4 linked regions of the Homo sapiens genome follow. The protein of the gene in region 1 interacts with the protein of each later gene in a pairwise test. Each region holds a gene or a part of one and is shown in the gene's direction. Other genes may lie near its edges.

Region 1 (8,009 bases):
GGTCAGACTGGTCTCGCACTCCTGACCTCAGGTGATCTGCCCGCCTCGGCCTCCCAAAGTGCTGGGATTACAGGTGTGAGCCACCACACTCAGCCTACAGGTGACTTCTTAAATCAATACTGAGATTATAGTATTATGCCTCTTCCAAAGCAGCCTGGTGAGGACAATCTCCCACTCCCACCCTAAAAAGGAATAAAGAAAATTGCAGCATGAACAAAACCAGAATGGAGAATGGGCCATTTCCTGGAGTGGTTTGAGCCAAGAGGGAGCTGCTCTTTGTCCGTGCTTGTTTCTCTGAGGGTCTCCTGGGCACAGCTGATAAACCACCCAAGTTTGAAAGACACACGTTATTTTATTAATATAGCCATCTCTCCCCACTGCCCCAGTGGTGAAGGTGTTTGCATTGCAACATGGAGGGGCACCAAATGCTCTGCGGGCCCTAGCCCGCTGCCACAGGCTAGGCCTGCCTGCAGCCAAGAAGGCTGCTCAAACTCTAGATGCCATTTGGAGGCATGAGGACCTGAGCCCAGAGGTGGCAGTGTCCTACCCAGGGAAGTCAACAGATCGTGCTCCAGGTCCCAGCTCTGGGCTGGGCCAGGACTAAATCCTGGCTCCCCTTTCTTGGTACTAAGGGGATTAGTGCTTGGTTGTCTGTAGGGGGTCAGAGTAGGGAGGGTTCCAGGAAGGGTTCCAGAGTGGGCTCACAGGGGACCTCCTCCCCTGGCCTCTTGGAGTCCAGGTCGTCGAGGGCGCAAAGCTGCACGCCATCCTGGGCAAGCTGGGCCCGCAGCGTGGGCGCGGTGAGGACGCGCAGCTCATGCAGCCGCTCCCAAGAGCAAGAGAAAGCGTCGGGGCCTTCACCGCAGCCGCCGGTGGGAGGCACACTGGGGTAGCCGGGGTGCGCCATCAGCTCGGCTGTCAGGGTGTGGCCCGCTAGGGTACCTTCCAGGACCCGCGCCAGGGCCCCGGACACGCGGTGAGCGGACATGTGCCGGCCGCAAGTGCTCAGGCCCACGAAGGCGTCTGTCCACCTGTGGGGGGCGGGACATCAGAGGTGGGACCAGGCCGGGCCATGGCCAAGGGCTAGGTAGGCTAGGGAAGGGACGGCGGGGTGGGAGGGGGTAACTGGGGTGGCGGCAGCGGTCGACGCCAGACTCGCTTCCGGGTTGAGAAACGGACACAGCTAGCCAGGTGAACAGCCAGTGCGGAGGGACAGAGGCAGCTATGGTAGGAGACGGGGCGGGGAGCCTCACCGCAGGCCGTGGCGGGAGAAGGGGCCCACGGCGGCCCGGGCGTCGCGCTCCACGGCGCAGGCGAAGGCACGCGCGGGGGCCTCCAGCCAAGTGCAGCCACCCACACCGCGCTCCAGCGGCAGTCGCGTAAAGCGCACCCCATAGGCCTGCAGCGCCTCGGCGAACACCTGGCACACGCCTGCGGGCGGAGCGGGTCAGGGAGGAGCACGTCCTTTCACCTGGGGGCATCGAACTTCCCCTACTCCCCCAGCCCCGCCTGGGAGTAACGCCCTCCAAACTGGGATCACTAACCACGCACCTGGGAGCACGTGCACGTGCTGGTGCCCGTCCGCGTGCGTGGGGGCCCTGCCCAGCAGCTCCCGGAAGCAGCTTAGTTGGGCCTCGAGCTCCTCCCGCACCTAGAGGGCGAGCGAGAGACACCTTGAGCGACCGGGAGTAGCTGCCGAGGATACCCTCCTCGTGCTTCCGTGTGATGGCTCCAGTGTTTGAATGCGGAAGTCATCCACCGCCAGCTCCTAACGGCCTCACAGTACCCTCCGGGCGGAGCTCTGGGGGTCCTCGCGAGCATCCTCCTGTAGCTGCGGCTCCGCACCTGAGGCAAATCCACGTCTCCGGCCGCCACCGCCTCCCGGAATCCCATCTTGCCAAGGAAGAAGCCTTCCGGGCCGAGCAGCGATGAGGCGCCACGGCGGGCCGGACCCACGGGGCGGCCCTCGGACAGGTTGGCGTGGAGGCCCGTGGGGATGCTGTGCCTGAGGGCGGAGCGCGAGCTGGAGCACTAGCGGCCGCGGAGCCGCGCGCCCCAAGCCGATCGCCGCCCTGCTAGAGGCCCTCCCCTCACCTGCGGGCCAGCTCCGCCGCGCTCTCCGTGGCCGCACCGTTGACCAGCAGGGACACGCTGGTCACAGCCCCGGCCAGAAAGGCCTCCACGATACCCTCATCGCGTCGCGGGCAGTAACCAAAGTCGTCCGCGGTGACCACCAGGCGCATGCGAGGGCGGGACATGGCCGCCTGGGTCCACCGCTCGCGCTCCCAGGGGAGTGGGCCGGACAGCCCAGGCCCCGCCCCCGGACGCTGCCCGGGCCCCGCCCCGACGCACACGCCCAGGTGCGGCTGCACTTCGCCTTTGTTCTCGCCACCTAGCGGTCCGGCGTGCCCCTGCAAGGACCCGGCAACTGCTCCCGCGCTAACCAGACCAGTGATGGATTCATTGCAATGCGGAACTTTCCTTGACTGCAAAAGTGATATTTAATATGTAAAATATCAAAAGGAAGCCGGGCGCAGTGGCTCACGCCTGTAATCCCAACACTTTGGGAGGCCGAGGCGGGTGGATCACGAGGTCAGGAGTTCAAGGCCAGCCTGGCCAACATGGGGAAACCCCGTCTCTATTAAAAATACAAAAATTAGCCGGGAGTGGTGGCACGCGCCTGTAATCCCAGCTACTCGGGAGGCTGAGGCAGGAGCGTGGCTTGAACCCGGGAGGCGGAGGTTGTGGTGAGCCGAGATCGCACCACTGCACTCTAGCCTGGGCGATAGAGCGAGACTCCGTCTCAAAAAAAAAAAAAAAAAAAAAAAAGAATCTCCTACCCTTCCCAGAGATTGCCATTGTAAACTTTCTGGGTTGTGTCCTTCCAGTGTTTTCTCTAAGCAAATAAACACACCCAACTCCCTTTCTCCCCAACCCAACTTTTTTGTGTGTTGTTTTGAGAACATAAAGATGATTATATCAATGTTATCACATTCTAGTAGTTTCTTAGCAGTGCGAATGAAAATTTTCATATTATTAGCTATTTTTATTCTTTTTCAAATTGCCTATTGATCTTTTGCAGATTTTTCTAAGAGCAGGCATTTTCTTGATTTGTTGATTTTTTTTTTTTCTTGAGCTCTAGACACTAAGAAAATGAAAGAAAGCATATACACTAAGGCTTCATTTGAGAAAACATTATCTCCAGTTTCCATCTTGAGCTCTCTGCCAGGCTACAGCTTTTACATTCATAACTTCACTGTTTTCTCTTTGGTCCAGAAAAGCTTTCCTTACCCATGACTGTATAAATAGTCATTATGGTTGGCAGCCACAGTTTCCATTGCAATGTGACAGTCTTGATTTTTCCCATGGAAAGTGTGGTATTTGTGTCCGGGCTATGAAATTGGTAATGTCATTCCTGTTTCACAGATGAGGAAACTGGGGTTCAGAGAGCGAAAGTGTGGTCCTGCCAGGAGTAGTGGAGCTAAGACTGAACCTCACACCTCGGGGCCAGCACCCAGGCCTGCTATGTCCTCTCTGTCCCTGACCTAGTGGGTAGCCAGAGCTGAGAGGACAGAGCAGAGCTTGAGAGGAACAATATTTCGTGAGGCATGTGAGGATTGAAAGCCTCATAGAGTCCTTCAGCCATGCTCTTGGCATAAGGACTGATGTGTTTATAGTGACTGGTGAATTGTCAGACCTCAACCAACCACCGTTCTCCACTGGAAGCTGATCTTGGAAAGGTCAGAGGTCCCGAGGGTCTGCAGGTGGGAAGGAGGAGACTGACATTTATTGAGCACCTACTTGGTGCCAGACACTGAAAGTATTAGAGATTAAGGGTGACTTGCCTCTGTTCTGGCCCCAAAGAAGCACCATCTGATAGAAAAATAAGTAGCAACATGGTATGGTAGAGTCTGGAATGGGGTTTACTGTGAATTGCGTAGGGCGTGGCAGAATTCACAGTAAAAGGTTTTTGGAAGAAGTGACACCATGGTGGGGTATTACTGAGCAAAGGGGAAAAGGAGGGAGGGAGAGGAGGTAAGAATATACAAGGCTCCGCTGGGCGCGGTGGCTCAGGTCTGTAATCCCAGCACTTTGGGAGGCCAAGGCAGGCGGATCACAAGATCAGGGAATCGAGACCATCCTAGCTAACACGGTGAAACCCCATCTCTACTAAAACTACAAAAAAATTAGCCGGGCGTGGTGGCGGGCCCCTGTAATCCCAGCTGCTCGGGAGGCTGAGGCAGGAGAATGGCGTGAACACGGGAGGCGGAGCTTGCAGTCAGCCGAGATTGCGCCACTGCACTCCAGCCTGGGCGACTGAGCGAGACTCCCGTCTCCAAATAAATAAATTAATTAATTAAAGAATACACAAGGCTCCACTGGGTTACTGGGTGTGCTGTAGGGAGATTTTATTGAATCCCATACTCCCATATTGGAAGAACACTCAAGCCCATTTACAGTGTGGGACTAATGCTGAGAGGTTGAGTCACATTGGCAGGAAAGAGCAGAGCCAGGAACTGAAGCTAGGTCTGTGACTTAGAGCCGGCACTCTTTCCACTGCAGAGGGGAGAGGTCTCAAGGCAGAACCTGGGGCTGTGCACACCGCGGGAAGGGCAGAGGCCCCTGGAAACGAACAGGAGCAGGAGGCCCAGGGCTGCGCAGCAACCAAGGAGGACACGAGGAAGGTGCTTGTGCCACCGGTGGAAGACGTGGCTTTGGCTTTTAGGCTCCCCTCGGGGCAGGAGCAGATCAAAGAGCCTAGCCCCAGCTTCGGTGGTGGGTGGGGGGTCCTCCCGGCAGCGGGGAGCGTGGGCACCAGCATCCTCAGCCTGCGGCTCCCAGGCGAGTGTGGGAGGGCAGAGCCCAGAGAATTGGAGGTGGGGCCAATGTGGGCCCCGCCCCCAACCATTGTGTCGGAGAGGGAAGTGGACGAGCTCCTCGGTAAGAACCAATGAGGATGTGGTATGCAAATAAGCAAGTGGAGGCCGCCAGCCGACTTCCTCGCACTGTGCAGCTGCTCCAGTGAGGGCGCAGACTGTACTGGCCTGTGCGGAGCAAGGCGGTGTTTCTGGTGAGTCTGTTGATTCTGGGCTGGGGTGAAAGCCAGGTTGCCCAGGGTTTGGGAGGAGGGCGGGTCGAGCACACGCAGATCCAAAGATGATCGGAGACAGGATTGTCCTCAGCGATTCCACCCCGATGACTCTGGAAACTGCCTGCCTGCAGACGCATGGGGGCCATGGAGCAGAGGAAGGGCTGGATGCATGAAGGAGGCGGGGTGCGGGGAGCGAGGGACCCGCAGACTCCAGGGCCACAGATGCGTGGACCTATTGGAGACCCTCAGGTTGTCTCCCCACCCCACGCAGAGAGGAATGCGCAGCTGAAGAGAGAGGTGGGCAGCAGGCCCGGTCACCTGCCAGGTGACCACATGGCCAGGTGCCGCCACCACTCGGGTTACCTGGCCGATGACGAGGCCAGCCACTCCATGTGCAGTGCACGGGTAAGTGTGCCCAGCAGGGCGCCGACCCTTGAGGCCACAACATGTTCCCCACCAACCCTGGCACCCAAGACCACAACCCCCATTTCTCATTGTCTATTGACTTCTCTGGGCCTCTTAGTGAAGTCCTTATTGCCTTGACTTCTCCTATGTCCCCCACTGCTTGCCCCTGTCACACTCAATTTCATTCCTTGTTTCCTCCTGACTTCCAGCGACCCAGAAGGTGCTTGGGTGGACTGGGACCCTAGAGTGGGAGCATGGAGTTGACTAGGTGCCTATGGCTCAAGTTGGAGAAACAGGCCCGGGTAGCACAGGGCTCAAGACCTCAGGTGTTGTCTGCACTCAAGACCTCAGATGTTGTTTGCAGCCCTGCCATGGATACAGGGATGGCCTGCTGCATGGACAGATGAGGAGCTGGAGGGAGACTCCGAGAGATTCATGATTGCTCATCCTGCCACGTGTCAGGGCAGAAGCAGGCTTGCAGACTCCTTAGCCAGGACTTGTGTGTGTGAAATGTAGGTGTTAGGAAAGCTTCGGGGTGACCCTGAATAGACCTCCACTTTGCAGATGAGGACATTGGACCTCAAGAGGGGCCATCTTGCACACTGGCATCAGGCTGTAGGTGGCAGAGCCAGGGTCCAAACCCAGGGCTTCCAGACTCCAAAATGCAGCTCCTTCCACTACTCACTCCCACCCAGGTCCTAGTGTTACCCCAGGGAACCCTTCACCTGTAGGGCACCCCTGCCCCCTGTGACATACCTGTCTGCTCAGGTGCAGCTGCCCAAGAAGCCACTGGTCCCAGAAATGCGGCCAGCCTGCAAGCCGGGCCGTGTGCCACACCCACCATCCACATGTGGCAGCTCAGCACTCCAGGGCCAACGCCGAAACAAGAGGCACCCTCAGCCCTTTGGCCACTTTCTGGATTTCCTAACTGAGAGCCAGGTCCTGGACAGCCTGGAGACAGTGGTGGAGAAGGCGACTGAGCGCATGGCTGCCATGAAGACGGAGGCTGGGGTGCCGCTTGTGGAGGTGCAGGACCCAGTGGAGGTGCCAAGTGGTGGACGGCGGGCACATGCCCGGCCCAGCCTCAGCACCGTACACCGGCACCGTGTACGGCCGACCCTCTGCACTGGACACCCCAACAACTACCCATCCAGCTCCAGCTCCATGTCCAACTGCCATAGCAGCCTCATGGCCGGCTGTCTGGGCTCCCACAGCCGGGACAGTGACCTAGGTGCCCAAGGCTCATTGCCACCTGTGAGGGACAAACTCCTGCTGGAGAAGAACCTCAAGCGGCTGCTACAGCTGGAGAGGGAAGGGGTGAGAGCCAGGGCCATGGCTGGGTGGGGTGGACTCCCATGGAGAGCCCAGGGCTAGGGTCAGCCCTGGCTTGGCTGCTCCTGAACACTTCACAGAGTCACCCTCTTTCTGCAGAAAGGCCTCAGTCAGTCCTGCTCCCAGAGGGACTCCCTGCTGTGGGATTCGCTGGGTAGCCAGACCAGCTTTCAGTGGACACAGGAGCAGCCCTTGTCCTGGTTCTCAGGGCTGCTGGGCTCAAGCTCTGGCGTGCCTGAAGCATCAGAGCCGAGGCCTGGAGAACAGGAGCCAATCTTCCGCAAGCGAGAGTTCAATAAGGAGATCAAGTCATTACTGAGCCAGCTGGAGTCCCTCGACCTGCCTGGCTACTGTCCGCTCCGTGAGCCCCATCGCACGCTGAACTTCCTGGCTGACCACCGCCTCTTCCCTGCCCTGCAAAGCGTGGTCAGCCAGGCTGTGGATAAGCTCCGTGGCGCCCACTGCCGCGACGGCCGTCCTCTGTTCCCCACCAGCTTGGAGCCCACCTCAGATCTGCCGCCTCTGGGCTCTGAGCCAGCTAAACCCACCAATGGCGGGCAGCCCTATGCTTCCCCCCGCCCCACAGTCTCCAGCCCCAAGATGCTTCAGAGAAAACGCAAGGACAGAGGAGGCTCCCCCTCCATGTCTAGTGCCCAGGTGGCCACCAGATTCAAACTCAAGGTGACACCCACGGAGAAGCCCAATGTCCCCAGCCCCTCACTCCACTCCAGGGAGGAGGCACCTGACTCAGATCCCAAATTACAAAACCCACCTGTTTCCCTGAGCTCCAGCCAGAGGGCCCAGCCCTGGCAGGGCCTGCACCTCACCCTGCCCACGCCAGGGATTGTGGTGGAGGTGGCCTGCAGCCAGGGCCACCTCAGGGGCCCTGTCACACCTCCACTTTCCTCCCCCTACCCCCGCTCTTCCTGCTACCTTCTCCCTGAGCTCTCTCCAGTTGCCTCTTCATCTCCCGCCTCACTGTGTCCAGAGGTGACCTCCTCAAAAGTAGGACCGGGCATGAGTTTGCAGGAGAAGGGCTCCTTGACCCACCACTCCTAGCAGCCACTGTCACTAACAGGTGCTCAAGGTCAAGGTCTCTTGCCCTGCACTGTGGAAACCTCCTGGGCAGGGGTCAAGCTGATGGGGGCCCATGAATCCTGGCCTAGCTATTACCAGGTGT
Region 2 (6,946 bases), on another chromosome or scaffold:
ATTGCTCACTGAGATAATTTTTCTTCACCAGTATGCTTCAGGGCAACGCGAGTGGGGCTGTAATGAAGAACAGTCTGTTTCTGGAAGATGCCAACATGCTGAACTGACCCAATCCCCAATCTGTGCAGAGGCCAAGGCTCTTCTGTCTCCATCAGTTAGTTGTAGGGAACTTTTATAAGGCCATAGGAGTAAGTTTATGGGAGAGGTGGCAGTAGAGCAGAGGTAACTGACCTGGGAGTTTGGAAACGTGGGTTTTGTTTTTTTGCCTTAGAAGGCATGACCTTGCTCCAGAATCTTAGGTATTTGTGCTGTGACTCTTTATGATGGGTTGAATTGTACCTCCACCTCATCCCCAATTAACAGGTTGAAGTTCTAGCCCCTAATACCTCAGAATGTGAAATTATTTGGCAATAGAGGCATTGCAGATGTAATTACTTCAAGATGAGGTCATAGTGGATTAGGGTGGGTCCCTCATCTAATGACTGGTATCCTTATAAAAAAGGGAAGTTTAGAGATAGTACACAGGGAGAATGCCAAATGAAGATGAGGGTAAAGACTGGGAAAATGCTTCTTACGATGCCAAGGAATGCAAAATATATCCAGCAAATCCCCAGAAACTAGGAGAGAGGCATGGACAGATTCCTTCTCACAGCCTCAATAGGAACCACACCTTAATTTCTGACTTCTAGCCTCCAGACTGTGAACCAACAGATTTCTGTTGTTTAAGCCACCCAGTTTGTGGTACTTTGTTATAGGAGCCCTAGCACACGAATGCACACTCTTATTGGGGTTTGCCAGCAACTCCATACAGCACCTGTATCCATCAAGGATATTTCTGGAACCACTGAATTTGCAAGTAAGCTTGCACTGTTGCTTGGATTTACTATAGAGTGCTCTCTTGCCCCAATAAAAAGTGGAAGCTGGCCAGGCATGGTGGCTCACGTCTGTAATCCCAGCACTTTGGGAGGCGGAGGTGGGTGGATTGCTTGAGGTCAGGAGTTCAAGATCAGCCTGGCTAACATGGTGAAACCCCTCCACTACTAAAATACAAAAATGCTGGGCATGGTGGCGGGCGCCTGTAATCCCAGCTACTAGGGAGGCTGAGGCAGGAGAATTGCTTGAATCCAGAAAGCAGAGGTTGCAGTGAGCCGAGATCACGGCACTGTACTCCAGCCTGGGCTACAGAGCAAGACTCCGTGTCAAGAAAAAAAAATAGTAATAAATAAAAAGTGGAAGCTTTTTAGGTCACCTAATACATGTGTTGGAACAGTTTTCTCAGGTGCAGAATATGCTACCTCCCAAATCCAAAGGGGCCCACCAGGACCTGTACCAATTTTTTTGGGATTAGAGGGTGCAAGGTGGAACAACTTTCTTTTACCTTTGGGTGATGTCCCCAAACCACTGGGCCCCACCAAAACTTCATCCATTTGATAAGTGCCCATATCTTCAGGTTTCTGTACTGCCTTAGTAAGAAGTCTTACTAGGATATTTATGACCCTTGTCACTTGCTGCTCACTGGGTACTACTAGCATTTGTCATCAATATATGGACCATCATGATGGTTGGGTAAAGTTCCTGCGGACTACACTGTGACAGAGAACAGGTCTCAGGATCCCACCCTCTCCCTGTATGAGCCACGACTTTGACTCAGGGGACCTGCCGAGTCTGCACAATTGGTCTCCTTTACATTACTGTCACTGTTACAAACAGATCCTCGGCCTAATTTTCAGCTTAGCTAGATGCAGAATTACCTTAGTAATTTATAAAAAATCAGCTATTGTATGTATCTAGATCTATTTCTGGACTTTTTTTTCTTTAAGAAATTCAACCTCATATTTCTGGACTTTCTGTTCTGCTCTGTTGATCTATTTGTCTCTATGCTGATACCATACCATCCTGATTACTGTACCTTTAGGAAAAAAATCTTAAAAAAATACAAGTATTCCAATTTTATTCTTTTTCAAAATTGTTTTGGCAATCCTAAATCCTTAGCATTTCTATATAAACTTTAGAATCAGTTTGTTAATTTGCACTAAAAAAAACAAAACAGGCTCGGTGCAGTGGCTCACGCCTGTAATCCCAGCACTTTGGGAGGCCAAGACGGGCGGATCACCCGAGGTCAGGAGTTTGAGACCAGCCTGGCCAACATGGTGAAACCCCATCTCTACTAAAAATACAAAAATTAGCTAGGTGTGGTGGTGCCCACCTGTAATCCCATCTACTCTGGAGGCTGAGGCAGGGAAAATGCTTGAACCTGGGAGCTGGAGGTTGCAGTGAGCTGAGATCGCGCCACTGCACTCCAGCCTGGGCGACAGAGCAAGACTCTGTCTCAACAACAACAAAAAGACAAAAACGAAAAAAGGTAACAATTTTTTGAGTTGTTTCCACCTCTGTCATCTGGCAAACTGTTAAAAGAAAATTTTGCTCAAAAGCAAAATAGCAGCTGCTGTTTCTTAACACTTTGTTATGTTTTGATGAGTACTGGTGGGAAGTGGCCTCTTTAAGTGGGTACCTTTTGTGGTCCTCTCACTGGAGCCAATTGCCTGAGTCAGCTAAAACTTGGACGCGATGTGCCTCACTGCCATAGCTCACTCACCTTTGCTGCTGAAATGGTTTCCCATCACATTGCTAATAGGTACAACCTGTGAAGGGTTCTAGGTGGGGAAATGGCAACTCAGGAAGAACTCCAAACCTTTAGCTCTCCTAGGATATTAAAATGGCCGTTATGAAGAGGAAGAAGTACTGTGTCATCTATTGTCCTGGGGACCTGTCAACAGGAACAATAGATAGACATCACCAGGGGTGTATTTCTGTTCAACACAAGGAAAAGTTTCTAATTGGAGCTGTCCAGCATGAAATGGACTAAGCAGTGCATTTTCTTTCTCCGATCCTGACTCCACTGTGACGGGCACTGCAGACTAGAGAGATTGTGTCCTAGTATGAATTTAGGTTGGATAAATGATACTTAGGGATAAAGAGAGGAAAGGAATATCAGAATCTCCAAGAAGCTGATACATTTTGAAAAAATATATAAAATGCCACACTTCAGGTTTTCTTGTGTTTAATTTGAAACGTCCAGTAACATTAAAGAACAGCATTTGATTTGCTTAAACAAAGTAGTAACAGCTGAAGTTCCTTCCAAATCACTTTTCTGATTCTCTAAGAGGCTTGCCTATGCCTTGCAGATCTAGCTTCACCTACAAGACATATTCTGTAAGGATCCAGGTTCAGCAAGGTGTCAGAATGTCCTAAGGGTTTCTGTCCCGGCGCTCTGCCTGTCCCGCTTGTGCACAATGCTTTTGCCTATCCCTGTTTCTGCATAGATTTTAGTCTTCCCACCAGGGACGCAACTGTCAGTTTCCTCCGTCTCTCTCGGTTCTATTCCAATCTGCTCATCTCCCCTCCCGTCCCCGCTTTCCCCAAGGACCTACTGAGATTTCGATCCCACAACTTAGTGGGTCCCATCTCACCCAGGCCCCGCAATCCTCGCCTTCTACTTGTCAGCGTTGTACTACACTCTGAGCAGGCACCCCTGTGCTACTCACGGAAGCGGGACCATTAGGTCGGCCATTCCTCCTCACCCCACGACACGCACCCACTGGGTCGGGCCGCCTCCTTGCAGGGAGTCTCAAGGATGGGCTGGCGTCAGGGAGGGGCCCAGGGGGCGCTTTCCCAACACTGGTCGCAGTCATTGTTGGTATAACGGCTAGAGACGCCCAGTGAGTTAGCATGGAGGGCAGTGGGACCGGAAAAAGACGTGGAAAAGCTGCGAAAACGAGCCTTCGAATCATGGACGCGCGGGCCCAGCTCCTCCTCCGAGTTCCTCATCCGGGGCCGTCACTCACATCCGGGGCCCTCACTCACATCCGGGACCCTCATCCGGGGCTCTCACCCACATCCGGGACCCTCATGCCTGGGCGGAGGAGGGGGGGCCCTCATTCGGGACCCTGCACTCCGTCGCCGGAAGTGCCACCGAGAAGCGCCGGCCTCGGGGCTGTCTACAGCGGCCCGGGAGAGGCTGTGGTGGCCCCGAGCGCGAGTGTGTAGGTGACAGGACAGCGGCCAGGCCCGCCCCTCCCCTCGGTGAGTACCCGGAAGCCGTTTTGGGGTCGCAGCGGGGTGGCAGCTTGTTTTGCCTTCACGGGAGTAGAAGGAGGCGGCGTCCGGCCGCGGCCGACGGTAGTTCGCTTCCCCGAGAGTGCGCGGAGGCCCGGGTGCGAGGAGGGCCTGTTTCTCTTCAGCCCTGGTTCATTCACCTCGCGGACCGAGGGCCCCGCCGTCAGGAGCCGGCGACCGTGCCCTGGTGCGAGCTGGTCTGTATGTCCTCACTGGTCCTTTTGGGACTTTGCCTTGGCCTAAAAGGGAAGTGGGAGGAGGGCAGCGCCGGGCAAGGCCTTCTGAGGACCGAGCTGGGAGCCGGGCAGGGGCCCAGGGCGAGGGTGGTGGGAGGGGGACGGCACCCTCATGCGTCCTTGGGCCTGAAGGACGCCGCTCAAACCTGTTCGAACCGCAGCTCTTACCTGCGTTGCTCTCAGGATTCCGGGAAAAGGCCGGTCTAGCTGGTCTGAGTTAGCGAAGGGCCTGACCCCAAAAGTGGAGTTTTATTCGCCAAGCCCGTGTAGTAAATCGGAGTGGGCTGACGGTGTTACCAAGACATTTCCTAGGGGGCCTGCTGTTTTATTTATTTAAATGAGTTTATTTACGTAAACGCGGGCCTGTCACGGTGGTTCACGCCGTAATCCCCGCACTTTGGGAGGCCGAAGTGGGAGGATCGCTTGAGGCCAGGCGTTCGAGTCCAGCCTGGGCAACATAGCGAGACTCCCATCTCTGCTAAAACAAAATTAAAATAAAATGAGCAATCATAACTAGCATTTTTCTCTGGGCACCAACTTGAGCCTCCAAAGACGATTGTAAATTTTAAATATTTTGTTTTGTTTATTTGAGGTGGGCTGTCACGCTGTCATACAGGCTGGAATGCAGTGGCGCAGTCATAGCTCACTGCAGCCTCTACCTCCCAAGCTCAAGCGATTCTCCTGCCTTGGCCTTTGGAGTAGCTGGAACTACAGGCCTGGGCCACCTAATTTTTTTTTTTTTTTTTTTTTTTGTAGGGACGGGGTTTCACCATGTTGTCCAGGACGGTCTGGAACTCCTGAGCTTAAGGGATCCACCCGTCTGTGCCTCCCAAACTGTTGGGATTACAGGCTTGAGCCACCGCACGTGGCCAATTTTAAATATTTTAAAGTTTCCACAGAAAGCTTTACACTATTAAATTGTACCGTGTTAATTTTTTTAATGCCACAAATTCCAAATTAGAGACTCTTCTATGATTTGGTTCTTAAGTATTTAAAGCTGAAGCATATCCATATTTCTTTTTCTTTTTTTTCTTTTTTTTTTTTTTGGGACGGAGTCTCACTGTGTTGCCCAGGTTGGAGTGCAGTGGTGCAATCTTGGCTCACTGCCACGTATGCCTTCTGTATTCAAGCAATTCTCCTGCCTCAGCCTCCCGAATAGCTGGGATTACAGACCCGCACCACCACGCTGGCTAATTTTTGTATTTTTAGTAGAGAAGAAGTTGCACCATGTTGATCAGGCTGGTCTTGAACTCCTGACCTCAAGTGATCTTCCCGCCTCAGCCTCCCAAAGTGCTGGGATTACAGGCCACTGCGCCTGGCCCCATTTTTCTGTTACTTATTTAGGGTGGTTAATCATTATCAACTAATTTTTATTGAATATCCATAGTGTGTAAGATCCTTTGCAAAGTCCTGACGATATAAAATGATGAAATGCTTTAACTTATTACAGTAATTTCTCTTAATCTTACCTTGCAGTGATGGTCATTGTCCTCCAGAGCAGTGATGGAGGAAATACCAGCCCAGGAAGCAGCAGGGTCACCAAGGGTCCAGTTTCAGTCTTTGGAGACCCAGTCTGAGTGTCTGTCCCCAGAGCCTCAGTTTGTGCAGGACACCGACATGGAACAGGGACTCACTGGGGGTAAGGCAGAGAAAGCACTTCCGTCTGGGAGAGTGGGAGTGCGGAGGGGCTCCCGAGGGGGCTCCTGGGCCTGGTTTGAGAGAGGCCAAGAACTGGAATAAGAACATGGTCCCTAGAGGGAGGAATGAAAGAGGGGGCAGATGTGACTCAGTTCAGTCCTAGTCTGAGCCCCTTTATTAAGGATAGCTCATCTTTCTCAAATAAGCAGAGTGATGGCTGCTTACTCGCTGTGGTGGTTTTTCCTTCAGGCAACCTTCACTTCATCCCAGTTCTCACATCCAGAATAATTTCTAAGATATGCTGCTTTTGCCACATCTCACAGTCCTTTCCTGGCTCTCACTTCCTCTTAGGTTCAGGACCTTTCTTTCCCCTGTTCCCTTCACTTAGTTTTTCTTTGCTTTGTCACCTGCCATCCATTCTGTTGTAACTGCAGTGTTTTGTGACTAGACTAAATTTGGTCAAGGAAGCAACCATTTAATTCCTTGGTTGAACACAATGCCTGTATGAATGTATATATACTGTATTTTGACTACGCAGTCACACTTTGCTGTATCGTATAGGTAGGTTGGTCTTTTTCTTCCTTTGTTTTATAAGAGCTGTGTCTTAGATTGCCTGTGGTTAACTCTAGTGCCTGAAATAACTTGTGTGTCACCCACACAGATCAAGTGCCACAATGTGTAGAGTGCTGTGGGGGATTGTGGGACTGTGGAAAAGATTTCGAGGAAACAGATGACCCTTTCTTGTTCTTGGGGGCCTTACACACTGGTTGAGACAGCACCCATTCACAAGAGAAACGCTGATCAAGTGTCTAGAACAGTGCCTGGAAAGGGTCAGAAGTCTGCTAAATAACCCTAGCCCAGGACAAGTCCCCACAAGTCTTTATGCTTTGCTTTGCCCATCTGCAAAACAGGTATAGTCTTACTCTTCTGTAAGAGGACTGTCATGTGATGAAGAT
Region 3 (7,128 bases), on another chromosome or scaffold:
AGGGCAGGACTTCAGGCTGGATCCACCACTGGGCTCTCCCTCCCCCAGCCTGGAGCACGGGAGGGGAGGTGACGGCTGGTGACTGATGGATGGGTAGTGGGCTGAGAAGAGGGGACTAGGAAGGGCTATTCCAGGCTCAGCCCTGCTCCTGCAGCTTTGCCGCTGAGTGTAGGAAAAACAGGCATGACAGACCAGGGTGAGGGTTGTGCCCAGCTGGGCCACGGCCATGCGTGGGGTGGCCCAATAAACACCGTGGACTCCCAGCAAGGCTGCTGCCTGGTGTTTCGAGGCTGCTGTGGTCGCAGACAGCCGCCTCGCCTTGGCTCCCTGTCAACAAGGTGGGGGTGGGAGCGGGAGGGAGGAGTGGCCCCTGTCTTAAGAGCCTCACAGGCTGCACCAGGAGAGCAGCCAGCCTGGGCCAGGGGCCGCCAGGTCCCGAGGGTGGCTGACCCAAACGTCGTAGATGCTTTTGTTGGGTGGCACCCCTTGGAAGAGGGCGTCTAGATCGCAGAGCAGCCCTGGGGGCCCTCGGGTTTCAGGGGCCACCCCCCAGTAGGCAGGGCTGGTTGACGGACACTGGGGACAGGAGGTGGGTGGTGGTGCCAAGGGCATTACCACATTGGGAGTGTAGATAGGCAAGTAGGAGGTGGGCAGCTGCCCCCAGAGGGAGGCCCTGTGTCCCCCGCTGGACCGTCCCCCAGGAACTGCGGTGCCCTGCAGTAAGTGGAGAGGCCAGGCCCTAGGCTCTGGGGAGAGGGTTGAGGGCCCGATGGCTCCCCCCTGCACAGTCTCCCCCTCCACTCTCGTGGGGCCAGGAAGGGGGCAGAGGGGCCACAGAGGCCTCTCAGAAGAGGGAAGGGGTGGGGTGGGCACCGCCTCCTCCCCACTGTTCCCTGTGCCTGCAGGAACTGGGCTGCTCTGTGGAGCTAGCCCCGGCCAGGGTGCCCCCTCCCCGGACCCTCCTAGCAGGGACTTGATGCTGAAGCCCTCACTGGGTGGTGGCGGGGGACTGGGCGGCCGGTATGGCCGGCCGTGCAGCACGTAGGGGCCCAGGTCCTTGGCGAAGGCTCCACGCGCACCTCCGTTCTGCCAGCGCCGGCACAGGGCGGTGTTCTGCAGCCGGAGCGCCTCAGCTGGGATCAGGCTCACGTCGACCGCCCAGAAGTTGCCCTTGGCCTGGGGCTTTGCAGGGTCCTTGGGCACCTGGGTGTGGGGGTCAGACATGGGTGGGGCTGCCCAACCTTGGATGCTCAGGACTTCCGCGCGCGCTCCGCCCCCGGGCTCCGACCCTGGCCTGCCCCACCTTGCGGAAGCATCGGTTGGAGGAAAGGTTGTGGCGAATGGAGTCTTTCCAGCCCTCGTAGTCTTCCCTGAAGAAGGGGAACACGGCCTGGACCTGACGGATGATCTGAAACCGCCAGGCGGCCGGCCGGCGCCGTGAGCCCAGACGGGGAGGGGGTAGCGCCCTACCCCTCCCCCACTACCGGGCTCAGGGGCGCGCGGTGCCGGCCCCTGCTGTCCCCGAAGAAGGACATTTCTGCGCGGAAGCGCGGCAGAGAGGGCAAGGGGCTCCCGGAGAAGGGTCGTGCCTTGAGGCCCTCAGCTCTCAGGACTGGTCCCACTGGCATACCTGGGTGGGCTAGGAAGGGGTGGGGGTCAGGGCTTGAACCTGGAAGTGGGTGGGGAACGAGTCTGGGGAAAGAGAGAGTGGGGGCCGGGGCCCGCTCACCTGGGCCAGCTTCAGTCTGCGGGAGGGAGCGGCCTGAATCACCAAGGCGATCATGGCCAAGTAGGTGTAGGGGGGCTTGTCATGTCGCAGGTACCTCTTCTTCCTCCTCTTAGGGGGCTGGGAGGGCGACTCTGCCTCTGGGGGCCCCAGGCGGGAGCCGCTGCAGGGCCCCATGCGGGACGGTAGACAGCGTGGGCAGGGGCCTGGCCGGGTGGAGGGTGCAGGGCGGTGGGGCAGTGTAGAAGGCAGGGCCGGGACCTGAGGCCGGGCTGGGGCAGGCGGGCTGGGGCCTTTATCATTCGGATGGAAGGGGGAGGGGAGGGAAGGGAGGAAGAGGCTGTGGGGGAGGGGAGCATGCCGAGGGCTTCCACAATTAGCAGGTTTTGGTTAATCTGGAAGGGAGGGGCAGAGAGCATTCTAGTGGGGGCTTCTCCTGAGGCCTCAGTCTCCACCCCTGAGTTGCCTTTGGGTGGCCAGGCCCGGCTTCAAAGGGGCTGCGATGACCCATGGCTACTTTATCCCGTCTTCCCTGGTCAGGTTTCAGGACCCCATTTAACAAATGGGGGAGTATTTAGCCCATGCCAAGCTCCCAAGGCGTGGGGCGCTCCTGGAGTTCAAGATCTAGCAGCTGCTAGTAGGCCCTGAACTATGGGGGCTGGATATCCACCCAGGACATGATCAGGTGGAGCTTCCTGGAGGAGAAGGCCATGAAGCCCGCACCCTAGGAACAAGAGGGGGACACATTGACTCAACTGATTTCCTGGGAGTTGCTTCAGGAGCCCAGGTGGACCGCTCACCTCCTCCTCCCTAGCCATCTCTGCTCCTCCACCCAAGCAAGGCTGGTATTGTGTATCCTGCCCCAAAGCCCAGGTTCTCCTCCCTCACAAGGGGCAAGTTTGCCCAAGAGGATAGCAGCTCTGGGAATTAGCAGCGGTGGTTGGTGCTGGCACCAGGCCAAGGGCCCCCAGACACACGGGGGCCCAGGGATATGCTTTTGCCCTTCACTCTGAGAATTCAGCTTTTCTTGTGCAGCCTCCACCATGATAACCTCAAAGGGCTGAAAATCTGCAGCATACGGTGGGGTCCAGCACACCCTGAGGTGTGGAGGGGAGGGACAGGCAGCAAGTGTCCAGGAGGAGGAGGCCTGGGCCGCAAGGGGCCTTGTATGTGGGGTACCACACTGCTCCTGCCCCCCACACCCCCGGTCGGGTGGTGCCCCTTTTCCTTCTATCTCTGACTCTCCCCTCAGACGCCACGTGGTTTCCCTCAGGACTCCTGCCACCACCTCTCTGCTGTGTTCCCTAGGTTATGGCTGCACAATCCTGTGCCTCATGAGGCTAATACTTGTGGCCACTTCACCCCATTCGGTCAGCAAGGCGTCGTTCTTTCCTACAAGTGTTTGTTGTTGTTGTTGTTTTGAGACAAGGTCTCACTCTGTTGCCCAGGCTGGAGTGCAGTGGTGCGATCTGGGCCCCGTGCAGCCTCCACCTCCCCCGCTAGGGCGATCCTCCCGACTCAGCGTCCCGGGACTACAGGCGTGCGCCACAGAGCCCAGCTAATTTCTTAATTTTTGGTAGGGACCGGGCCTGCCTATGTTGCTCAGGTTGGTCTCCCGGGCTCAAGTGACCCACTGGCCTCGGCCTCCTCCCAAAGTGCTGGGATCACAGACGTGAGCCACCGGGCCGGGCCTTTCCCATAATTTTTTTTTTTTTTTTGAGACGGAGTCTCACTCTGCCGCCCAGGCTGGAGTGCAGTGGCGTGATCTCGGCTCACTGCAAGCTCCGCTTCCCGGGTTCATGCCATTCTCCTGCCTCAGCCTCCCGAGTAGCTGGGACTACAGGCGCCCACCACCACGCCCGGCTAATTTTTTTGTATTTTTAGTGGAGACGGGGTTTCATCAGGTTAGCTAGGATGGTCTCGATTTCCTGACCTCGTGATCTGCCCGCCTCGGCCTCCCAAAGTGCTGGGATTACAGGCGTGAGACACCGCGCCCGGTCTCCCGTAAGTTTTAAGGCACCCCCCTCTCCACTGGCGCTTCCTTGGTGGGGCGCTGGAGGCTCCCCAAGTTCTGACCGCTCTTCTCCGACCGCACTGTCCTGGGCCCGAAACCACCCCCAAAGCTGCCACCCATTCCGCTGGCGCCCGTCCCGTTGCCCGCGATGACTCGGTTTTGTCCAGCATAAATCAATGACCACCGTCCCGGGAGCCTTGGAGCACTTTGAGCCATTCCCGTCCCACCCACGCCCCAAGGAGGTCCCAGCCGCGGAGGACTCGCCCGGCCGCCCGCAGCTGTCCGCGTTGGCCCCCACCCCCGACCGTCCCTCCCCAGGCCCCGCCCCCGACATTTCCTCCTCCCAGGCTCCGCCCCCGGCTCCCACGGGGCACCGCGGCTTCCGGCTATGGGTACCGCGGGCCGGAAGTGTAGCGTTGCCATGGCGAGGGCCGGGTGCGGGGCCCGCCCCCGCAGCGCCTCAGGGAGCGCGGGGCCCACTGACCCGCGGAAGCCAGCGGACCCACTTGTGCGGCGGTCGGCGCGGGGCGCGAGGTGAGGCGCGGACTCCCGGGTCCTGCGGCGGGAGCGGAGCGAGGGAGAGGGGCCCCGGCCAGGGAGAGCAGTGGCGGGCCCGGGAAGGAGGGGCACTGGGTCGACACCGAGAGAGGAGGCCGGGCCGGGGAAGGATGAGGCAGAGGAGAGGGAGGAGGCCGGGAAGGGCGGGAGGAGGAGGAGACCGAAGGGAGAGAGGAGGCTGGCGACGGAGGAGGCCGGGGAGGGGCCCTCGGGAGACGCGGCTGCCGGCACGCGGGCGCCCAGGGCACAGGTCCCGCCGGGCCGCCTTGGGCGTTGCTGGCTGAGGCCCAGGGCAGCAGGTGCCAACGGTCAGGAAAGGCAGGGAGCCGAAGGCTGCCGGTGGGCGCTTCGCGTTTTGTTCCAAGGCGAAGGTGTGTGGATTCTCCGCAGCCCGTCGGTCAGGTAGACAGCTCCGGAATTGTCTTCATTTTCAGATGAGGAAATCGAGGCCGCAGAGAAGGGACTTACCCAAACTTAAGCTTTGTGTGGGCCTTGGAGCTAGGCTGAAGGAGAAAGTGGAGTCTCACTGGGGCAAGTTCCTTCAACTTTCAGGGATTCAAATGACCTCACTTGTAGTGCGGGGCGTCCGGACCACCCCTCAGGAATTGGGATCAGGGCAAGAATTACTAACTAAGCAAGCACCCCGCCTGGGAGGGAGCGTCCAGGACTGGTGTGGGCCCCTGTCTGTACCAGAGCGGAGGCCCGGGGCACGGTGGGATTAATTTCCATGGGTGCAGAGAGGGGAGCCGTGTACGGAGTCATTCTAGGCTTAGGGGAGACAGAGCAAAGTTAGCCTTCCCCAAACCTCTGTGCCTTCCTTTTCTTCCTGGATTCCTACCTGGGGGTGGAGGTGGAGGCGGGGGTACCGCTGCCTTTCTCAAAGTGTGTCTAGTCCAGCAGTGAGCCCTCCTGGGCGTCTTGGCGCCCCAGTTGCTTCCTGGACGTATTGGGGTTTCTCTGGGAGAAGGGTCTTGCCTGCAGTACCCTGGGCCTCCTGAAGAGGCCTCTGGTTGCGCTGCCTGATTCAGGGACCCAGAGCCACGACTCGCCGAGAGGAGCTCCGGCGGCGTGCGGCTGGGTTGCCTGAGGGGCTGGGGGCTGCCTGGTGGACTTGCACACATGCTGGCTCCATACCTGTCACTGTGGTGGACGCTCAGAGCTCTACAGGGCCAGCTGCCTGCCCCTGCCCCAAGTCCCCCGGGCTGGGGTTGGGATGGGGGTGGCTTTAGGGGGTCCTTCCCCCTCCTGGTGCTCGAGCTGGATTTCCTCCCTGTTGGCTGGGGCCATCCCTCGTGTCTCTGATTGGCCTGTCCTGGCCTCATCCCTCACCTGCTTGGGATGCACTTGGACTCTGCTTTGCCCCGAGGGTTGCCTGGGCTGGCACCTAGCAAGGGGGCTCCTCCTGTATGACTGTACTTTGGGGTCTGTGTTCTAGGGATTCTTGAACCTCTGGTCTGAATGAACAGCCGATTGATACAGCTCTCCACTGCATGCAGCTTAGGAACCTCAGTCTCAGGTGACCCCACAGACTACCAGCACCCCCAGCTCCACCCTTGCTCTTCCCCGAGCGTGTCCTAACCCTAGCACTTGTGCCACATCTATCCATTGGCCAAAATGAGAACTGGGTGGCAGTTCCAGGCCCTTCTTTCATGCCGAGGCTCTCCTGGCACTGGTGCACGCACACCTAAAGGGAGGCCTTTTCATCAGACTTGCTCAGCCAGGAGCTCAGAGCCTTCCATGTCACATCCTGTGCTGGGACCCCTGTGCCAGAGGCTCAGCAGCTGTTCACTTGTTCAGCTCACTGCACTTACTGAGTGCTGCCTATGAGTCAGGAACTGGCCAAGTTCTTAGGATGCAACAGGGAAACAAACAGTAACTGGCATGTCAAGAATTAAAACAAGGTGATGAGATAAGAGAATGACAAGGTAACCACAGAAGATCTCTGAGGAGGTTGCACTTAAGATGTGATCCGAGTCCCACAAAGGAGCATGCTGTCCTAAGATCCGGTGGAAGAACTTTCCAGACAGAAGGAGCAGCTGATGAAGGTGGCGGTGATGATGAAGCTGGTAGCACCAAATAAATGTGCTAGACCAGGGGTTGGCCAGCTTTTACTGTGAAGGGCTAGGCAGCAAACATTTTAGGCTTTGCTGACCATGTGGCTTTCTGTTTTTTTGTTTGTTTGAGATGGAGTCTCACTCTGTCGCCCAGACTGGAGTGCGGTTGCACAATCTCCACTCACTGCAACCTCTGCCTCCCGCGTTCAAATGATTTTCCTGCCTCAGCCTCCCCAGTAGCTGGGATTACAGGCACATGCTACCATGCCAGTTAATTTTTATATCTTTTTTTTTTTTTTTGAGACAGAGTCTTGCTCTGTAGCCAGGCTGCAGTGCAGTGGTGCAATCTCAGCTCACTGCAACCTCCGTCTCTCGAATTCAAGTGATTCTCCTGCCTCAGCCTCCCAAGTAGCTGGGACTACAGGCGCATGCCACCACGGCCAGTAATTTTTGTACTTTTAGTAGAGATGGGATTTCACCGTGTTGGCCAGAATGGTCTCGAACTCCTGACCTCATTATCCTCCTGCCTTGGCCTCCCGAAGTGCGGGGATTACAGGCGTGAGCCACTGTGCCCAGCCCATGCTTTGATTTTTTACATCAAACTTTATTGAGGTGTAACTTACAGTAAGATGCACCTATTTTAATGGGTTTTGTGTGATGGGTTTTGTTTAATGGGTTTTGTTTGATGGGTTTTTTTTTTTGACGGAGTCTCATGCTGTGTCGCCCAGGCTGGAGTGCAGTGGCACGATCTTGGCTCACTGCAAGCTCCGCCTCCT
Region 4 (7,019 bases), about 16 Mb from region 1:
GCTGGTCCCTTCACTTCTCTGGGCCTCCATTTCCTCAGTAGCTAAAGGGAGATGATGACCCTTTTTGCATGGAGGTCTTTTGAGGGCTCTGCTCGCAGAAGCAAAGCACCCAGCTCTGCCAGGCATGTAGCAGGTGCTTAGTAATAGTTGTCACTTACAAGCTGTCCTCGTCCCAATGTCCTGCCTGTCAGTCCCTTGGCTCTGAGTCCCTGGGACTGAGCCACCCAGCAAAGTTTCATGCTGTGGGTGGGCTTGGGTCACCTCAGGAGCCCCTGTGACCGGGCCAGCCACAGGTCCATAACAGGAGTCACAAAGCCCATTAGTGCAGAGTGCACTGTAGGCGACGTGCTGTTAGTGTGGCCGGTGCGTGGCCGCTGTTCACACCTGCCAGTGTATCTAAGGGAGGGGTGGGGCAGAGCGGGGGCTGCACGGCCATTGTGGTCTTGGAACTCAGCTGTGAGGAGAGGGCAGGTAGGGAGAGCATCCGGTGACTGTGGAGGAGGAGCGAGGGGGAAGGGCGAAAGTCAAGGCTTCCTGAGTCAGGCTGGGAAAGTGTGGACTTTGGCTTGTACACTCTGGGAAATGTGGGAGGGTTTAGTTATTAACTGCAAGGCCAGCTGCTGGCTGTTTTACAACATGCTCTTTGTCCAGGGAGTAGGCATAATGACGATTATCTCTGCTCCATAGAGGAGGTAACTGGGGCTCAGAGAGGTTAAGCAACTTGCCCAGGGTCCCACAGTTGGGAAGTACCAGGTCTGGGTTCATAGTGACCTGATCAGATTTGGGTTTTGGAAAGGGCATAGGAAACATGGACTGTCAGCGCTGGAATGTGGAGGTGTTGGGTGCAGAGGGATGGGTCACGCAGCAGATGGGTACAGCATAGGACCAGGGCCTCTGGCCTCCGGAGCGGCTTGGTCAGCCAGTGTCCAGGCCCTGCCCCCACCTGGCCCCCGGCAGTGGGCTCAGCGAGACATTGTTTTTGCCTGTGCAGGACGTGCTTCTCGGGGAAGGGGTGGAGGCGCCTCCCTTCCTGCTCGCCTCGGCCCTTCCTCCCTTCCTCCAGTTTGGGCTGCAGCAGGGGTCCTGGCTGTTGTCCAGGGGGCGCCAGGATGCAGCCAGGGAGCAGGAGCCTCCGTCCCAGCCCCGCCCAGGCCCCACGATCACATGGGGCCACTTCTGCTGCCCATGCTGTTCCTGGGGAGGAGAGAGGTTCCTGGGGAAGAACACAGGCTGGGGAAGGTGCAGAGGTGGTGGACAGAGAGAGAGAGAGAAAGAGAGAGAGAGAGGCAGACAGGCGGAGAGGAGAGGGAGAGGGAGATGAGGGCCCGGACAGGTCCCAGGTCGGGGCAACTTGTGTGTCTCCTGGGATTGTGTTATGGCGAGGTGGGAAGAGCTGGCTTTGGTGTCAGCACTTGCTACTGTGGGACCTTGGGCATGTCTCTGAATTTCCCAGTGCCTCAGTTTCCTGCTCTGTAAAATGGGCTCACATAGTGCCTGTCCCTTAGGGTCACTATGGGGGTTTGAGTATCCCTTCTAGAATGCTTAGCACACTCACGGTGGATGTCAGCATATGCTCGCGGTTAGTTATGATTATTGTCGCCATTGTTGTTTAATCCTCAGAGCAGCTCTGCAAGGCTGGAATTTTAACCTCGTTACACAGACCAGGACACTGAAGTACAGAGACAGTTAGAAATTGGTCCCAAGTCACAGGCCCCTCGGAGCTGGTTGGAGATTCCGATGTGCCTCCCCACTGTCTCAGCTGTTGGAGATCTCACATCCGTATTGTGTGCCCACTTTGTACTGGGCACCATGTTGGGCATTTTCTCTCCTCTTTCCCATTTCCTGCCCATCTCTTGCCCTCAGCCTCTCTGCCCTGCCCTTCTCAGCTCCTGGAGCCTGGGTGCCGGGAGGGGATGGTGGATAGTGGGGGGCTGGGGCAGACCGGGGGTTGGGCTGACAGATAGTCAGGTGGGGGACAGCAAGGGAGAACTCATGGGGCAAGTGAGGTGCTGGGTGAGAGAGGCAGAGCATGGAGAGCACTGGAGGGTTTCGGGGTGCCGTCTCCCCAGCATAGCCTCACCACTGCCCAGCTCGCTCACGTGGCCCCAGGGGATCTCTGGCACCTTCTGTCCTTGCAAAGAGAGGGTTCCCATAAGTCATTGCCTGGCTCCACGGCCCACTAGCTGTGCCCATTCTTGGCAAGTTAACTTTCCTGTGCCTCAGTTTCCCTTATCTCAACCATCGGGTTGTCAGGAGGATTGACTGAGGTGATCTGTGTGGCATGCTTCAGTCTCAGCATCAGGTCCCTGACCTGGTACCAAGCAGGCACGCAGACTACTCAGATATCTTCCCACGGGGCCCTGGGGGACATTCATTGAGGCCATGTGGCCTGTCACTGCTCAGAGCTGGCAGAGCTGGCAGACTTGCCCCGTTCCTGTCTGCCTGTGACCTGACCTGACTGGGGAGGGGGCTGGGAGCTGGTAGCTAAGGACACTGTGCTTCCTAGTACCACACAGGCAGCCAGCTGGTCAGCCAGTCCCAGGAGCGGGGAGCAGGCAGCCCCTCTCCCTGCTGTGTCCTTTCTCTACCCCTCCTGCTTGTCTGCTGAGGCGGGGGGCTGGGAGGAACCCTATCTGGACCCTGCTCTGGGCAAGCCCCTGTGGGCTCTGCAGACTCCGAGGAGTGCTGGGAGCAGGTATTCCTGGTCTGTGGAGGCTCAGAGAAGTCACTGGTCCTTTGAGGAGGTTGGCAAGGGCGTCCTGGAGGAGGGGGCGCCTGAGCTGGGTCTTCAGGGAGCTGCAGGAGTTGTCAAGAAGAGCCTGAAAAACCTGAGTTGAAAGCTGAGGTCAGCCTTGATGCTTGCATTGCAGAGGGGAGAGGTGTGGAGGAGGGAGCGAGTAGAGGTGGGTGGGGTGGGTAGGGTTGGTGGAAGAGCCTGGATGCCAGCTGCTTACTGGGCTCTGGTCTGGAGAGGCCATGATGGTCAGTTGTCTGTGGGTTTGAAACAGGTGGGGAAACTGAGGCAAGCGAGAGGTGATTTGTTGTGAATCACACCTGATGCCAGTAAATGTCTAGTTTTGACAGAGCACTTAGTGTCTCCTGGGCCCTGTTCTGAGAGCTGCCCATGTCTAAACTCAGCGAGTAGCCAGGGAGGTGGGTGGAGCTGAGGCTCAAGCGGCTGAGCAGCTGGGCCGTTTGACCCCAGAGTTCCTGCTGGCACCCTGCGTGCTGTGCTTCTCGGACCATCTGACCACAACCCACAGTGAGAGAAACCCGGTACACATGCCTGGAACAAAAAGGTCATGAGATAATAATTGGATTTACCTGGGGTGGCGGGAGCGGGGTGGGGGATAGCATTGTACTTTCTATTCCATAGCATTATCCAGCTGTCCCAGTCGCAACCCAGTGAATGTTACCAGCCACTAAGGGCCAGGCCTGCAGTTTGGAGGCCCCAGAGTCCTCTGGTTTCCACCTCTCCCTGCATTATCTTTTATTCATGTGCCCCCCCCCCCCACCCCCCAGCACCCACAGAGGGCAAGGGGTGTCATTGTCAGCTTCGTGTTATGCATGTGGTAACTGACGCTCAGCAGCCGGCTCATTTGCCCAGGCTAGGGTGCAGTTTGCCCTGGGGTTTGGAGCGGACCGTGTGCTCCAGCCACAAAGCCAGGGCCAGCATAGCCAGGCCAGGTCTCAGGCCTGCCCCCTTTCCATGCCACCTCGATGCAGCCAGGACATGCGGCACTGAATGATGCCTCCCATGCCTGCATCTGTCCAGCCCCTCGGCCTGGCTCTGTGTCTTACCTGAGAGGGCGGGGCTGTTCCCCAGCAGTGCCGATTGGGTGGGAGGTCCTTGCAGCCGCGCCCTCCCCAGGCTGGCAGCAGGGGGCAGTGCAGCTGTGTCTGGGCTGCAGCTGCTGGGGTGGATGGAGATGCTTCGCCCCGCTGCCTCTCCAGCCAGCACACCTGCTGACCTTGGTCTCCCCACCTCCTCCAGGCCAAGGTGTCTGGCAGGGGACTTGGGGTCCATTTGTCTCTGAGCCTGGCCACAAGGCCTCACCTTTTCTCATCCAGGGACAGGCAGAACCCTACCATGATGGGGATTTTGGTGACGTCTTAATTGTCAGTGGTCCTCCTGCCCATGGGAGGAAAACCAGACGCCTCTGTTCCACGCCCTCCAAAGGGTGGCTCCAGCTTGCCTTTCCTGGGAGCTGCTTCCCAGGATGTAAAATAAGAATTAGGGCAAGGAGCTCAGCATGGTGTCTGGCACATGGAAAGCACCCAGGAAGTGTTCGCTGCTATTGTTATTATTAAATTCTTCCACGCATCCTGTGTTCTGTCCTCCACACCTTTGCTCTGATATATTCCTTCAGCCTGGAACTCTGTTTCCTCCATCTGTCACCAAAGTGCATCTATTCTTCACCAGCGTGTAGCCTAGGTACTTCTTCCGTGGGAAGCCTCTCTCTGCTTCCACGGCTGGTTGTAACCACCTTTGGATCTGTGCCACGTGCTAATGGTGACCTCCCTCCTCAGACTGTGAGCATAACAAGCTTTTTTTTTTTTTTTTGAGACAGAGTTTCAGTCTTGTTGCCCAGGCTGGAGTGCAGTGGCTCGATCTCGGCTCACTGCAACCTCTGCCTCCTGGGTTCAAGCAATTCTCCTCCCAAGTAGCTGGAATTACAGGCGCCCACCACCACGCCCGGCTAATTTTTTTGTATTTTTAGTAGAGATGGGGTTTCACTATGTTGGCCAGGCTGGTCTCGAACTCCTGACCTCATGATCCGCCTGCCTCGGCCTCCCAAAGTGCTGGGATTACAGGCGTGAGCCACCGTGCTTGGCTATATAACAAGCTTTTATTAGTCATCTGCTATGTGCCAGACACTGGGTTTGGTGCCAGGGCTACAGAGCGGAACAGTATAGAAGTTTGGTCCTGAAGGTGTTCGTTCTGATGGAGGAAACGAAAGGGCCGTGGCAAGGCAAAGTTGGAGTGCTCTGTGGCACGCAGGCTCCACTGCACCGTGTGCCCAGGTCCAGGGGAGAGGCTGCTTGTGACTTGAGATTTGAAGGATGATCAGCATTTCCCAGGTGGAGAAGGCAAGGAAGAGGGCACAGAAGATGGAGAGGCCTGGGGGTGGGAGTCATGGCATACTTGGGAAATGAAATCACTGTGGTTTTCCAAGAATGCTGAACTGAATCCAAGTACTGATTGGACTCCAATTCTCATCTCCTTTCTCCCTTCTCAGGTCTCTGGCTATTCGGGTGTCTGGCCGGAGCCCCCCAGGGGGCCCAGAGCCGCAGGACAAGGGACCAGATGGACTGTCGTTTTATGGGGACAGATGGTCTGGGGCTGTGGTGCGCAGGGTGCTGTCTGGGCCTGGGTCCGCCAGGATGGAACCAAGAGAGGTGAGGCCCTGCCTCCTGAGCTGGGGGGGTAGGGTCAGTGCTTTTGCCCAGGCTGGACATCCCTTAATTTGGTGGATCAAGATCACCGGGCAGAGCTTCTGGGGATTGGTCAAAGCCGAAGCGGGCTCAGTGATTAGCTGTGGTTGCCTGCTCAGCCAGGCTTAATTGAAGTCTGATTGGGCAGGGACTGGGAGGTGGAGCCAACTGACAGCACGTTACATTCCTGCGCTTCAAGTCGAGAAAGACCTGGATGAGCTGGGCGGGTTGGGGAGTCCTGTGGATGGGGGCGTCCTGTGGATGGGGACGGGTCTGACTGGGCTGGGCATGGCAGTTTCTGAGGGGGCGCTATCTGAACTGTGAGGCATGAAACACCCCCACACCTGGTCTTCCTCCAGCCCCTGGGCTGCTCTACTCTCAGAGGCTCACTTCTTTCCCTCCCTGCCTGGGTTTTCTCCCAGCAAAGGGTGGAAGCTGCTGGTCTGGAGGGGGCGTGCCTGGAAGCCGAGGCCCAGCAGAGAACCTTGCTCTGGAATCAGGGGTCCACACTCCCCTCCCTGATGGACTCGAAGGGTAAGTCTGGCTTGGGAGTCGGAGCTGTTGGCCCCAGAGGGGTCCTCTAACCCGTGGTGCATGGGGTGGGGAGGGACCAAGGACCTGAGAAGGGACCAGCCTTGCCCCAATTGCCCTTCTCCTGGCTCCCCGCCTGCTGATGCCTCCTTCTGTCTGTCCTTGTGCCCTTTCTCTATGCCTCCCTCTGTAAGCAGCTTACAGTGAAAGGAGCACTACATTAGGAGTCCAGAGACCTGGGTTTGAGTCCTGGCTCTGTTTCTAGAAGGCACTGGCCTTGGGCAAGTCCCTGCCCCCTCTGGACCTAAGTCATTCTAAGAAGGTGAAGGTCGGGTCCTGGGAACTCAGGCCTCGAGAGGGCCATGTCTTTGGCCCCACCAAGGCCGATCCTGGACCTCACCATCCTCCTCTTGTCCTCCTTGCTGCCCCCTGCCCCATCCATGCCCAGCCTGCCAGTCCTTCCACGAGGCCCTAGAAGCCTGGGCAAAGGGACCAGGTGCCGAGCCCTTCTACATTCGTGCCAACCTCACCTTGCCTGAGAGGGCAGATCCCCATGCCCTTTGCGTGAAAGCCCAAGAGATCCTTCGACTGGTGGACTCGGCATACAAGCGGAGGCAGGAATGGTTCTGCACCCGGGTTGACCCCCTCACTCTGCGGGACCTGGACCGGGGCACCGTGCCCAATTATCAGAGGTGACGCAGAGCCAGGAGCTGGGGATGGGGTCCCCCTGGGAGCCAGGGCTCAGATGGGGGTGCTCTCCCTCCACCTGCATTCCCTCACCATCCTCTGGGACAGGGCGGGGGGTTCGAGGAGAAATGAGGAGCTTTCCTTCTTTCTACACACATGATGTCACTCCCTCCCACAGAGCCCAGCAGCTCCTAGAAGTTCAGGAGAAATGCCTGCCCTCCAGCCGGCACCGAGGCCCCCGCAGTAATGTGAGCACGGCTGGGCAGGTAGTGGGTGGGGGGCCCCAAGGGTGGGGTCCAAAAGGGAGCTAGCAGGCTCTGTTCTCTGGCAACCTAGGAAGACACTCCCTCCCTCCTTCCCTGGTG

What was found.
Region 2: the proteins of CCDC116 (region 1) and ZNF655 interact in binary tests that used the Homo sapiens proteins (3 or more experiments, as listed by UniProt).
Region 3: the proteins of CCDC116 (region 1) and PPP1R16A interact in binary tests that used the Homo sapiens proteins (3 or more experiments, as listed by UniProt).
Region 4: the proteins of CCDC116 (region 1) and CARD10 interact in binary tests that used the Homo sapiens proteins (3 or more experiments, as listed by UniProt).

Annotation. Positions count from the first base shown.
Region 1 is NC_000022.11:21,627,757-21,635,765, forward strand, and holds the start of CCDC116 (coiled-coil domain-containing protein 116), read left to right. Parts: upstream 1-5,003; 5' UTR 5,004-5,071; intron 5,072-5,223; exon of another isoform or gene 5,224-5,227; coding exon of another isoform or gene 5,228-5,425; coding exon 5,426-5,497; intron 5,498-6,265; coding exon 6,266-6,814; intron 6,815-6,928; coding exon 6,929-7,510; coding exon of another isoform or gene 7,511-7,888; exon of another isoform or gene 7,889-8,009. Other genes in the region: YDJC (carbohydrate deacetylase), read right to left, coding at 662-1,031, 1,254-1,431, 1,552-1,651, 1,846-2,005, 2,095-2,258.
Region 2 is NC_000007.14:99,554,705-99,561,650, forward strand, and holds the start of ZNF655 (zinc finger protein 655), read left to right. Parts: upstream 1-3,937; 5' UTR 3,938-4,083; intron 4,084-4,120; exon of another isoform or gene 4,121-4,317; intron 4,318-5,828; 5' UTR 5,829-5,855; coding exon 5,856-5,991; intron 5,992-6,946. UniProt on the Homo sapiens protein: Probable transcription factor.
Region 3 is NC_000008.11:144,473,854-144,480,981, forward strand, and holds the start of PPP1R16A (protein phosphatase 1 regulatory subunit 16A), read left to right. Parts: upstream 1-4,128; 5' UTR 4,129-4,274; intron 4,275-4,497; exon of another isoform or gene 4,498-4,700; intron 4,701-4,732; exon of another isoform or gene 4,733-4,829; intron 4,830-7,128. Other genes in the region: FOXH1 (forkhead box protein H1), read right to left, coding at 385-1,203, 1,304-1,408, 1,730-1,903. UniProt on the Homo sapiens protein: Inhibits protein phosphatase 1 activity toward phosphorylase, myosin light chain and myosin substrates.
Region 4 is NC_000022.11:37,495,400-37,502,418, reverse strand, and holds part of CARD10 (caspase recruitment domain-containing protein 10), read left to right. Parts: intron 1-5,240; coding exon 5,241-5,400; intron 5,401-5,858; coding exon 5,859-5,970; intron 5,971-6,415; coding exon 6,416-6,659; intron 6,660-6,832; coding exon 6,833-6,902; intron 6,903-7,019. UniProt on the Homo sapiens protein: Scaffold protein that plays an important role in mediating the activation of NF-kappa-B via BCL10 or EGFR.